Linked DNA regions of Homo sapiens: all the other regions are reported to be linked to region 3. Evidence: microRNA targets listed by miRTarBase, many of them from high-throughput screens and not tested one by one. Region 3 holds a microRNA gene; each other region holds the end of a gene's coding sequence. Distances are from middle to middle.
Evidence for each region. The annotated mature microRNA hsa-miR-5582-3p reads UAAAACUUUAAGUGUGCCUAGG and lies in region 3 at 2,270-2,291, opposite strand. An mRNA with a match to its seed (bases 2 to 7 or 8) in the 3' UTR can be bound and repressed. Matches are read on the target gene's strand: a 7mer-m8 pairs with bases 2 to 8, a 7mer-A1 pairs with bases 2 to 7 and ends in A, and an 8mer does both.

Region 1 (3,000 bases), not on the chromosome of region 3:
GTGTGACCAGCTCCCATTTCTTTTTCTAGCTTCCCCAACCCCAAATGCCTTACTAAAAGAACTTTTTTCTCTAATGCATTAGGCTGTTTCATACCTTTGCTCAGATTATTCCCTCTCAGCCAGATCCCTACCTCCTGAGAACACCTATTCATCTTTTTAAAGCTCAAAATAAAAATAATGTCCTCAAATCTCTGCAATTGAGTGCTCCTTTATGCCCTCTTTAACCTTTATTTTGTCTTTACATCTATAACACGTTACAGTCATTGTTTACATATCCATATGCCTGACTAGGCTGTGAACAACTCTAGGGCAGAAATAATGCTTTATTCAGCTTTACATCTTTCATCATATACTACAGCACCAAAAAACTTGCACTGAATAAATGTCAGACTGAAATCTGCTTCCCTGTGACTTCCTCAAATCCTAGTTCAAGCCCTGGGATCCAGATAGACAGTGCCAGCATTTCAAATAATATCTAAAGACTGTCCCAGTCCCAAGTCTTCTCCAAGCAAAACAGCCTTAACATCCATGTTTTAAAAACCTTTTTATCCACGCTGTCCTTTCATCCAAGCACTTGAGCTTAGTGACTTTTTATAAAATTAGGCACCAAGTCCTAATGAGTGCTGAGCCCCTCAGGGTAAAAAAGTAACCAAGGTCACTTTGCTTCTCATTCATTAAATAAACGCCTGATGGTGACTACTAAGTGTCCAGAAATTCTAGGCACTAGTGATACAGACATTAAATTTAGTTTCCTTGTCCTCAGTGACTTCACAGTCCAGAGAAGACAATGATAGTGGCAGGGCTAGAGCCTAAGCCCAATATGCATGAATGCTAAGTAATACTTCCTCAAATCAACTCCCTTTTTAACAGCCACTTTATCATCTTAGAGCATACTGAACACGTACTCCTTGAGGCCTTTTTCATAATAACTACTCTCAAGCCAGCTCTCTGCAACCTAACCCTTGAATTGTATCTTTTGTTGATTATTTTTTCAAACCCAGTTACAGGATTACTATATTATTCCAGTTGATTGCATGTGCTGCTCTTGGTCCTGTGTGCTACCTTGTTGAATGTGAATTTCCATGCTGACCCTCACAGATCTGGTCCATAATCTAACCTGAAGACCATAACTCTAACTTCATTTAACTTATTGGTTAAAAGCAATGAGGATAACAGAACTAAGGCCCAACCTCTAGAAAGCTCCATCCTACTTTCTTATTCACAATTTGATACAATACATTAAATATACCCCTTATCACCTTATTAACATTTATTATTTTGAATAAAACTATGGAAACTTTGGATAAATCATGCATAACGAGGAATTATAAGCTGGTTTTTAAAAATAACAATCATTAAATATCCATTATAAATATTAATTTTATTTTAAAAGAATTGGAAGATGTTACATATATTACATACTACATATAATGGCACATGTCAGCCTTTTAAGCTTAAAAATAATCTTTTCCCAAACTGGGATTGATTTATACCCAAGTATAAAATGACCCTTGGCCTATAGCACCAACCCAGGCCCAGAGGAAAAGCCAGTTTTGAACCTGTCTGTCCTCTGGCACTGGGCTTCCTGATATGACACTGAGGGTCCTCTCCCTCTGGTTTTATTCCCTGGCAGTATTGAGGCCTGGCACAGGGACCCATCTTACTGTATGCTGCAGGCCTGGGGAAATCAGGGAATCTAGAGGGGGTAGGGTCCTCTAACCATTTTATAATGAAAAAAAGTTAAATATGTTCCTTATTCTGTGTTTTTGATTTATACAACTATAACAAGACTCTACAAGACAGAAGGAGCTTAAAATTACTGAAATACAATTTCTCTGCTAGTTCTTCTCTTTGGAAATTGAAGTCTCATAATAGGAGGAGCCTTAAAAGTCATCTAGTTCTGATTGGTAGCCTGTTCCACTGTCACCTCCCTGTCCCAGATTTAGGTATAATTCATTCAAAGTTTTAAATGCCATCCATATGCCACATTTTTAGACAAACACAGAAGCTTAATAATACTTTTCATTTTCTTTTTCTTGTTTCATAAGGACAATTCCTGCCAAATGTTCTGTCTTATGACTCTCCTCCACTTCAAAGTATGTTTAAGTTACACATTAAGAATCCAAAAAAATACCACTATGGAATTTTCATAAGCAATATCCAACCAATCAGTAAAACACAGTACACAGTGTGAAAACTTTAATTTATTCCCCTCCCAAGTATCCAGAATGTATATCTCTTTAGCTTTGAGAAATGAGATACTGAAAATACCAACAGAATTGATCATATGAAAGAAAGAAAAGCACATACGACACAGGAAACATCCCTAAGTCCTCCCTACCCTAGTAGTGCAAGTTAATGGTAAGTTTCTGGCAATGTCACCTTTCATTTGATTTATAAAACTTTTACAGGACAGATTTAAAGTGGAGATAGGCCTCTGATTTTTATTTTTAAATCCTAGCAGGTTTTTTTTTTTTAAGAGGCTACTATATTAAATGACAATGCATTTTGAGTCGGGGAGAAAAAAATTAAAAACCCAAAATTTCTTTCTGTTTATTCAAAATAAAAATACACATAGAATTATGAAAATATAGGTTTACTATTTCCACCACGTAGGTTGATGCTGCTGTTGAAAGGCTTACAAACTGTTTTTCAAGTTTTTAAAGCTCATCTCGATCCCTCAATAGAGTATACCTATATTCACTGGGTGCTAGTTTCTGGAAGGAGCTCTCAGGTGGACTGCTTGCTACATCTTGGGCTTGCTACAAAAGAAAGAATAAAACATTTTTATACCAATATAGTTTATGGTGCTATAATATTTTAATAAGTGTATTCGATGAATAGTAGTTCCCCTATAATTATTTGCTTATTAATCAATAAAAGCAACTGTGTGCCAAAGCAAGATATTTAAATGTGAAATCTTGCTTTCCTCATTTCAAATGCTCTTATTGAGATTCTCCAGGGCAGGGTTGCCACAGGGCCATTAACTGTGGGCTTGTT
Region 2 (3,210 bases), 13 Mb from region 3:
TCAGGGGGATCTGTTAGCATTAGTTCAGATCTGTTGGCAGCAACAGAAACTAATGCGAGCTAGTAGACTTTGAACACTGCTAAAGAACTTACCAAGAGAACTCAGATGTATAAAAGTGGTTAATTCTGTCAAGAGGCCCAAAGTCTTGGGCAGGCTCTTATTTTTTCAGGACACACATAAGACATGGGGGCTAACTGCAAGGACACAAGAAAAATATACCCATACCTTGAAGCCCCCAGTACATTCAAGACCAAGTTTGGCAAATAGATTAGCATCTTTCAGGAAATACCATGAGCTCCACTTATCTACTCATCAGGTGTTCCTTGCACCCCTAGCTCATCCCCCCAAGGGGACAATCCAATGGGCTTATCACCACCCAATACTGAACACTATGACAGTTCCTGTAAATCCAGATGAGTGGAGGGCACAGGGTATTGGCTCTCGAGCAGAGAGCCAGTAGGCATGACTGGTGTTCGATTCCTAACTCCCCTGCTCCCTGGTTTCATTTGGAACCAACTGAGACAGACACATGAATCCCTCTTCGTTGATCAGGGTCAGTTGGAGGATGTAGCTGTCGGCCTGGTAGCCAGGTGGGCTTGCTAATCCTGCACCTCTACCTTAAGCTTACCCAGCGTGAGGCCAGGTTAGAAAGTCACAGGCCTTGGCAGCAGGCAGAGAGCCTTTACTGTCATAGTGAAGAGCTTGCCAAGGACAGGACTGATTCTTCCTCCAGCCTCACCTATCGGGGCAGTCATTGTTCCGCTGTCAGGAGGAGAGGGGCCAGAAGGGTCACATTGAAGAAATGTGACATGAGGGTGGAGGTTCCTGTCCAGCACTCTTACACTCTCTATTTAACCTAGGCTGACTCACTGCAGTTGGCACTAATTTTCTATTGCCACAGCCCTCTCCAGCCAGGAGGGCCTGGAGTACCTGGGGTGCTGTTTGCCTAGTACTATAAATGTCTTTACATTACAGTATTGCCTTTGGGTCCAGGCACTCAACCTTGTCTATGGCATGAGTCACAGCAACTTTTTGCAGAAAGCAACCCCAAAGTTTAAGGCCATTTATATGACCCTTGTTGATTTGGACAGCTTAACAGCCCCATCTCCCCATTTAGTGGCACTCAGATTTTGCTTTAGAGGACTACCTTCTTCCCAGTGTAGTCTGGCCAAAAAGTGGGTACATGACACAAGATAGCAGTAAGCCAATCTCATCCTAGAATCTCAATCCTGAGAGAGGCTTCCAAAACTGTCGACTCCTGGCTTTCTGGAGTGTGGCTGAATTCCCCACCCCCCCGCCCCCAAAAAAGTTCCCAGAAATTCATTTTCTGCTTAAATTCATCAAAATTGTTTCTCATTCCTTAGAACTCACATGAAATGAGCTTCTTTGCTCAGCCGGTGGCTGTGGGCATGGTCAGTACTTCCTCAGGCCAAAAAAAAAAAAAAAAACCTATTGATGTAAGGAAAGACACTGAGCTAACAGAGAACACAGAGCACCAAGGTAATGCTAAGTTTTGATAAGCAAGTTTCTATTTTCCTATGTTCAGGGAACGGCATCAACAGAAGAAAGCTGGCACTGCTCAGGATGTCTTCTTTCAGTTGCTACCATTAAGCATACTGCATATCCTTTTCGGCCATAACCACATTCACCCACTTGTTATATTTCATTTTCAGAAAAGCATCATTCATTGCACTCGGTTTGTCCAACAGAGTATAATCAAGGGTTTTTTTTCAACATTAATCAAGAAATTCCTCCATCTGCAAAAGTCAGCCTATGCCATTAAATACAGCCAAGATCATAAAATACAAATGTCATTAGGTCTACTGAATCTTGAGATTCATTCACTAGAATACACAGGGAAAAGGAAAAAGTTTGCCCTTGTGAAAGGTGTGTATCATTTTTTAGAAGAGCTTCTGAAAGCCTCAAACATCTGTGAGTGTGCTAAGAGCCGTTACAAAGGTATTTTATACAATCTATGCTGAGTCAGCTAGGAGTTAGCAGGAGGCTGGATGCAGATGGTAAAACATACCCCTGCAGATCTGTTGTTATTAAGGATGACCTTTGGAAGTCTCAAACTGTAACCACAAAGGGTGTCCCCACTGCATTCATACTATATACACACATACCTGAACTGCCTTTCTACCAGTAACATTTAAAATAAGCACACTTAATACTGCCAGTCACATGTAGTAGAGTGTTCACTCTGTAACTGTGTGTGGCAAAGCCAAGATATCCTACCATTCCAATAAAAAAAAGGCAAGGAAATAGCTTTAACACACCATTGATGTATGCTATTACACTTTTCCAGTGGAAGATAACAAAGCCCATATAAAATTTAAAGACAGAGGAAAAACTCGATTTTCAGCCACTTGTACCTCTCTAAGTTTTCATGCCCTGCTATCTGGAACACTTCCCCACTTCCCTGCCAGAAGTCCTCTAGCTCTGCATTAAGGATCTTGTTGTCCCTGACTGACACCCACATATGGAACATTTGGCATGCCTCCATGGCAACACGGGATCCCTGAAGTTTATGAAAGCGTTCCATGTGAGAGAGGATGCTCATATACTCCTGCCCCACCCTCCAAAGATGTACTAATGATGCTAACTGACTACATCCAAGGAGCCAGAGGAAAAATAATCTGAGGGCTGCAGAGAACCCACTCAAGCTGTCACTGCAAAGCTGGTCTTCCCAAGAGCAAAGGAGGAAGCATGCAATCTAGTTCAAGTCACACCTACTTCACTCTTAGACTTCTTCCTTCAAGTGGGGCTTCCCTGCAAACAGGACTGGTCTTCAAAGTCTCCCAGAGCCCCTCTATCTTAGCCAGGTTGCTCAAGCTAATTTTATTCTTTCCCAACAGGATCCATTTGGAAAATATCAAGCCTTTAGAATGTGGCAGCAAGAGAAAGCGGACTACGCAGGAACGGGGAGTTTGGGAGAAGCTCTCCTGGTGTTGACTTAGGGATGAAGGCTCCAGGCTGCTGCCAGAAATGGAGTCACCAGCAGAAGAACTGTTTTCTCTGATAAGGATGTCCCACCATTTTCAAGCTGTTCGTTAAAGTTACACAGGTCCTTCTTGCAGCAGTAGTACGTTAGCTCATTTTCCCTCAAGCGGGTTGTGACGTCGTTGAAATTGCAATGCTCAAACTTCCAACACTTGTTATACACTTGTAACCCTGTGGGGAGACACACACAAGGGTAAGAAAGTAAGT
Region 3 (3,243 bases):
TTAAGCAGAACTAGCTATTTATCTGGTGACCAATGCCTTAGGCATCTTTCTTGGGGACCAAAAAACACATGGTTATACTTAGTTTAGATTTTAAAATTTCAAGGTGGAAATGGTTACTGCACCACAGCAGGAGACTGATTCAACCAGTCCATGAGCCTTCACCTTGGACCTTCGGAAAGCATATCCTGGTGACCTACACCTTAGATAAGATCACTTCCGGTGTAGCCTCATGTCCCTCAATCTTTCAAGTCAGGCCACTCACTATTCGAGATGCTCCCTTTTCTGTTTCCTTATCAGACTTGCTCCCAGTCTGGTCCATACTGTGCTTCATCATCCGGCAGAGATGGGCCTCCAGCTCAGACTCGTTTTTGTTGTCGATCATCGTTAGGTGGTCCAGGATCTGAGGGAGACACATGCATGACTGATAGCACTGCCATTTCCATGATTTTCTCTCAAGCTCCCTCAGAGACCAGTTGCGATTCTTACTCACCTTGGGCCCTTTTAATTTGCATAAGGTGTGTAGCAGGGTCTTTAGGGTCCTTATGGGAAATTCACTTTTGCATTGCTTCAGTTTCTCTTTGGGGAAGACCTTCATGAAAATGTGGATATCCAGAAGAATTCTGTCTAGGTTAATGCTATTGATGGTATCAGGCAACAGTCGAACCATTCTCCAGAGACACTATTGAAAAAAGAATAAAAGAGTTAGGAGTGACTGAAGAATGAGGATAATTTGTCACCATTCATCTTCCCTAAGCTTTGAGCTCACTTCTAAAAGATGGCCAGGGCTATAAATGTGGCACATCATATCTTTCAAGTTCAGCTGCTAAAACATGAAAATTTTTAATCACTTCTACCATGACACCAGCTGAAGTGTGTCCAGTCATTCATCTAATCATCCATCTCTACTCCTTCCCACTCCCCAGAGCTAGGGGCCATCATTTAACCTGGTAGAAATTCTCTCTTGGGTTTCCTTCGTTCCTGAGAGTAAAGTAGTTCATGTTGCTTAACCAAATCTAATGCAAGGGGACAAAATATCTGATACTAATTCAGTGTAATAACAGTATTACAATGTTATAAATATGTTCATTTGGTCTCTTTCACAAAAGAGACCAAATATCATAGGGCTGTAGATATCTTTTTCCCCAAAATAAATGAAATCTGTTTCAAACTTCTTTCCTTTTGATCCTCAGAGAATTAGTAAAATATTTACAAAATATTTCCTCCCTTTCACTGTTTGAGGCCACGAACTGTTTAGGCCTGAACTTAGAATATAAATTGTAGGAAGGGAAAAACTGAAGACCAATTCATATATATATATATATATATATATATATATATACACACACACACACACACACACACACACACACACACACACGTGTATTATATACATATATAACATATTAAGATATACATATATAATACATATATACATATATATAATACACATATATATAAAAAACCATATATATATTTTTTAAGAGATGGGGTCTCACTGTTGCCAAGGCTGGAGTGTAGTGGTATGATCAAGCTCACTTCTGGGTTCAAGTAATCTCCTCAACTCAGCCTCCTGAGTAGCTGCTACTATAGGTGCATGCCACTGCACCTGGCTAAATTTTTAAAAATTTATTAATATTTTTATTACGAAAAATATATTTTCAGGTGTGACTTGGTTGATTTGAGCCTATGTCTTTCTTAGCTCCAATTCCTCTTTCCCCATACTTTTAACAAAGTGATTGCATCTTTGAAAGAAAAGAGATCAAATCATTTCAACTTCACCTTCATAACAAGCTCTGAGAATTTGGGAGAACTGGCTGTTGCTAGCAGGCTGTCTTGGAGCAAAACAAGTAGGGCACTGGAAGAAAAACCCAACACAACAGCATTAAGTTTCAAACCTGCATTCCAATTAGAATCAGCAGTTGAAAGGGCAAGTGAGATTACTCTATTCATCTAATAAACTGAGAGGTCATGGATCAGGAATTGTCCTGGACTACCTGACATTCAGTTAAGAAAATAAACATTGTTTAAGCCTTTTAAGTCACCACTTGGTAAGTGTAAGGTTTGTGACTCTATTTTTCATTGTCATTGGTAGCTGAGAAAGAATAAAATGTACCTGAAATGTACAAGAAAAATGTAACTGACAAACTTTACAGTCCTATTATAGAAAATGCATGATATTGGCTGGCTAACTAAGTATTTACTAGTTTTAGCTATGGTCTCAGGCTAAAATACCTTTGGTCCATGATGAAGAAGAGTAATAAATCAACTTCCTAGGCACACTTAAAGTTTTAACTGATATAGTTATAACTGATGTAGCTATAACTTTAAGTGTGCCTAGGAAGTTGATTATGATTGTTAGGTTGCCTAGGAAGTTGACTTACGGACATTATGGTTTCTAAGTGTAAACAAAAGCGAGGATGCCCCAGGCTCTATTGGCTGAGAGTACAGATATACCTCAGGATGTTGGTCTGGTCTGACTTCTCCAGAACCTTCACCACCAAGAGGTTCACAGAGCGGATGACCTGTTGTCCTTCCTCAAGATCTTCAATCCGAGAATCCAGCATTAAGGTGATGAGGCCATGCATTAGGTCTTTTAGTACTCCAGTGGAGGCCTCCCGGGCAAGGCTCTCTATCTGAAACAGCTATCCAGACATACTTGTGTCAGGGAGGTGTAAAACTCAATATAGAGAGTAAAGAAATGTGGGTGGCATATTCTGATAAATATTCAATTATGTTGTATTTTTTTTTTGAGACGGAGTCTCCTCTGTCGCCCAGGCTGGAGTGCCAGTGGCGTGATCTTGGCTTACTGCAAGCTCTGCCTCCCCGGTTCATGCCATTCTCCTGCCTCAGTCTCCCGAGTAGCTGGGACTACAGGCACCCACCACCACGCTGGGCTAATTTTTGTATTTTTTTTTTTTAGTAGAGATGGGGTTTCACCGTGTTAGCCAGGATGGTCTCGATCTCCTGACTTCGTGATCCACCTGCCTTGGCCTCCTGAAGTGCTGGGATTACAGGCGTGAGCCACCGCGCCCGGCTATGTTATATTTGTAAAAATTCAGAGTATTAAAGAAAAAACAAAATCACCACACTCCCCCAAGCCTCTAGTAATAGGCAAAATTAATCGGTGTGCTTCTAATTGTGAAATTTTTTGTTTTTTTTTTGAGACAGAGTCTTGCTCTGTTGCCCAGACTGGAGTGCAGTGGCACGATCTCGGCTCACTGAAAGCTCCGCCTCCTGGGTTCA
Region 4 (3,243 bases), not on the chromosome of region 3:
AAGTTATCTATGTTCATAATACAATTTTCACCACCTATAAAATTAAGTTTATTGTGATTTCTGTTCATTTCAGTTCACATAAAGTGCACGTGTAGAATATATGTTTATCTTAATGCGTTGTATACTTCAAAAGGCATTGATATTTTAATTTTAAATAGTCCTGTTTCTTTCCAAAGTTAAGCGTATAGAACTTCTTTAAGTGTTTGTTTCTTTTTTTCATTAGGTCTCAGCAAGAAGCAGCTGCCAAAAAATTCTTTTGACTACCATTTTCCTGTGTACTTCATCTATTTGTGTACAAAATGATGTCGTTTTGAGGGAATTTAAGTATTTAAATTGCTTCATAGTCTAAATTATTAATTTTCTTAATAAAATAACTGTTTAAACATTGATTTGCAGTTAAGAATAAACCTTAAAGCAAAGACAACCACATTTTAATTTGTTCACAGTATGTAAATCTGTCTAAATTTCAGTGAATTTCTGGTCAGTATGATGCAGCCTCTGAGCAGAATATTGACCAGTAAGAGGGTAAATAAAGTGGGGGCAACCCCTGGATATGAATGTTACCCCCTAAGTCTCCAATATTGCAGGTTTCCCTGTATAACGTAAACACACTTGCCCTCATGCCTCCCAGAATATGAGGTCTAATTAAGAAGTCCCATCAGGTTTATTTTGTAACCAAAGTCTTTTTTAGAGGTCAGACTTCCTAATCAAAGGCCTGGGCCTGCAGTCCTTTCATCTTAATGCAACTTCCTTTGAAATCAAAGAATATTTTGTCTGAGAGCTTTAAGGATCTGGTAATAGACTTCAAAATGTTAAGTGAAATTTTTTTTTCCTCTATTTATCAATGATATATTTCACTTTTAAAGGAAATTTTAGAGGAAAATTAATAGCTGCTTTTTGCCTAAAAAACCTTGTGGGTGGAAACATTCCTCTGAGAATGGCTTTTATAGGTATTTTGCCTGGTAATGTATTCATTCATGATTGCCCATATTCTTGAATGTCTTCATTCCAATGGGGTCAGGTCAATATTATGAAAATAATTTTTATATTTATATTTGTAACTTAAGGAATTTATTTCTCCCTTTACTACAGCATGTAAATTCAGCTCAAATTGCATGATCTGAGGATTTAAATTCACAAAACCTGCCACTACATTCTGGTTTACATTAGTTACTTCATGCTGGCTGGGGTTAGTGACCATTTGCATACTCTTTTAAATCAAGGAGGCTGTAGTAGAAGCAGTTTTAAGATTCTTGAAGGCAAAATTTGAAAAACAGTGAATACTTCTAATTGTTTCCTTTTAGTGCCAGAACTAAGGACATTGTGAAGCACTTGTTAGTAAACTTAACCTTGAAATGTCAGACTGGAAGGAGTTTTTATAGTCTTTGTGCATACTTCTAGGTATTACAGAAACAGTCTGTAAATGACATTTTAAGATGCAAATTTAATTCTGTTCACAGCTGATTTATACTGATTTTTGCTGCCTTCAAAATACTCTTTTACTTCTTTTAGCTAAAATGGTTGTCTTTCATTTGCCATAGAATTCCAAACAATACTATCTTATAAAATAGTACTGTTGAATTATTCCAAGCCTCCCTAGGTTTGCTCTCAAATGTCATTTACAGATTGGGCTAACGACCTAAAATCTATATATAAAGACTTTCTGAAGAACTCTGTATTATAGCAATACCAAACGAGTGCTGTGTGTGCAAACAGTCTGGCGTTGCTTTTTATGTTGATATTTATCCTAGAACACTGAAAGAGAATATGCCAGTGATAACTCACTTTACTTCAGTCATTTCAACACAGAAAATGCTTCTCTAGCATTTTTCTTTTGTAGTGTTAACATTTTGAAATTCATGTTTCAGAGGCTTCATCATCACAGAATTTACTCTTGCTCCATGAAAAAAAATTAAATACCTTCAGAGGAATATTTAAGTTGTAAACTATGAAACTTGAGAAATCCTCTTGAGATAAAAGGCTGCCAAATCCAGTATTATAAAGTCCATGGTCATATGTGCCTGTGCATTAAAGGAATACCAGATCTATGCAGTATACATTTTTCAGGCTGAAATTCAAGGGGAATCATTCTGATTATTCTTACTACAAATGGAGATGGCTATTATGAAACAGCATGAGCATGAGCCTTTTATCTTTTATACTTAGTGATATACTTTGCTTGAAAATCACTCAGCAAAGTAGTTCACATGATGTGTATCATATTTGAAGTGTGGTTTTTCTCAAAATCATTGACTTTAAGGAGCTCATTTCTGAACAAAAAGGTTTGCTCTGTGGAAAAATCAATCACTGCCAGGATTCTTTCATTTCTGTACTATTTTGTATAATTGAATTTGTTCACTTCTCTCACACCAGCAAGTGTTTTACAGGTGCCTTGGATTAAAACAAAATTGATTTTAAAATTTTTATGTAAGTCATTGTGTCTATGATGCCACTTTTAAAAGGAAAATGCAATTGCGTAATGGCTTATATCCTTATTTAATGTACCTATTTGTGTTCTAATAATTGTTTGAATGTTTTATTCAGCTTAAAACTTTACCATGAAGTCATAAACAGTAAACAATGTTTTGTTATGTATTAAGGGGATATCAGTGTTTCTCAAAGTATGATCCATGGACCATCTGGGTCATGGCGCCTGGTTTCAGACAACCTGAATCAAATCTTAGGGGTGGGGCTTTGGGATGTCATTGTTCAATAGGCACCTCAGGAGATTCTGAGCACACCAATGTTTGAGAACCACTAAAATGAGGAGTGGGAAAAAAAAAATAGGTGTTTTGTTAATTTAGAGCTGAGCTGAGAAGATAATATATTTTTATTGTCAATGACATTAACAGATATGCACTGATTCTTTTATACCTACAATTTACTTAATGTTCCTTTTATTAAAACGCGTGGTTCATGAGCAACTACAGACTGAATCCAGATTATTACCTGTTGCTTTCAGTATTTTCGTGATGGCTTTTAATCTTATGAAATCATCTTGAGATCATTCATGGTCAAGCCATGAAAACTCCCATCTTCAAGCCTGCCTGCTAAAGCTTCTTTGCCTTCCTGATTGTGATTATGGTAACAATTTATATCAGACAGTTGTACTTTTTGATAACTTAGGGAAAACAGAAATGACTTGAACAAGGGATTGCCTGCCTCACTGCATTGCAGAGATACAATTTTTGTAAAGAACACAAATAGCAGTTGTGAATATTAAGGTGTGATTATCTTTCCCTG

Region 1: the mRNA of ERP44 is a reported target of hsa-miR-5582-3p. Seed matches in the 3' UTR shown: 8mer at 2,398-2,405, 7mer-m8 at 2,194-2,200, 7mer-A1 at 1,284-1,290 and 7mer-m8 at 365-371.
Region 2: the mRNA of CD59 is a reported target of hsa-miR-5582-3p. The part of its 3' UTR that is shown has no 7-base or 8-base seed match.
Region 4: the mRNA of LMAN1 is a reported target of hsa-miR-5582-3p. Seed matches in the 3' UTR shown: 7mer-A1 at 1,241-1,247.

The regions. Positions count from the first base shown.
Region 1 is chr9:99,979,952-99,982,951 of GRCh38, forward strand. It overlaps ERP44 (endoplasmic reticulum protein 44), which reads right to left. Exons shown (of 12, transcript NM_015051.3): 12 at 1-2,762. The coding sequence ends at 2,661. Among named protein-coding and RNA genes, the nearest start is that of STX17, 75 kb to the left of the region's middle.
Region 2 is chr11:33,707,170-33,710,379 of GRCh38, forward strand. It overlaps CD59 (CD59 molecule (CD59 blood group)), which reads right to left. Exons shown (of 4, transcript NM_000611.6): 4 at 1-3,174. The coding sequence ends at 2,957. Among named protein-coding and RNA genes, the nearest start is that of C11orf91, 7.9 kb to the left of the region's middle.
Region 3 is chr11:46,750,856-46,754,098 of GRCh38, forward strand. It overlaps MIR5582 (microRNA 5582), which reads right to left and starts at 2,337; the gene lies at 2,270-2,337. It overlaps CKAP5 (cytoskeleton associated protein 5), which reads right to left. Exons shown (of 44, transcript NM_001008938.4): 37 at 2,455-2,642; 38 at 1,780-1,855; 39 at 491-679; 40 at 263-400.
Region 4 is chr18:59,328,110-59,331,352 of GRCh38, reverse strand. LMAN1 (lectin, mannose binding 1) reads left to right here. Exons shown (of 13, transcript NM_005570.4): 13 at 224-3,243. The coding sequence ends at 260. Among named protein-coding and RNA genes, the nearest start is that of CPLX4, 11 kb to the right of the region's middle.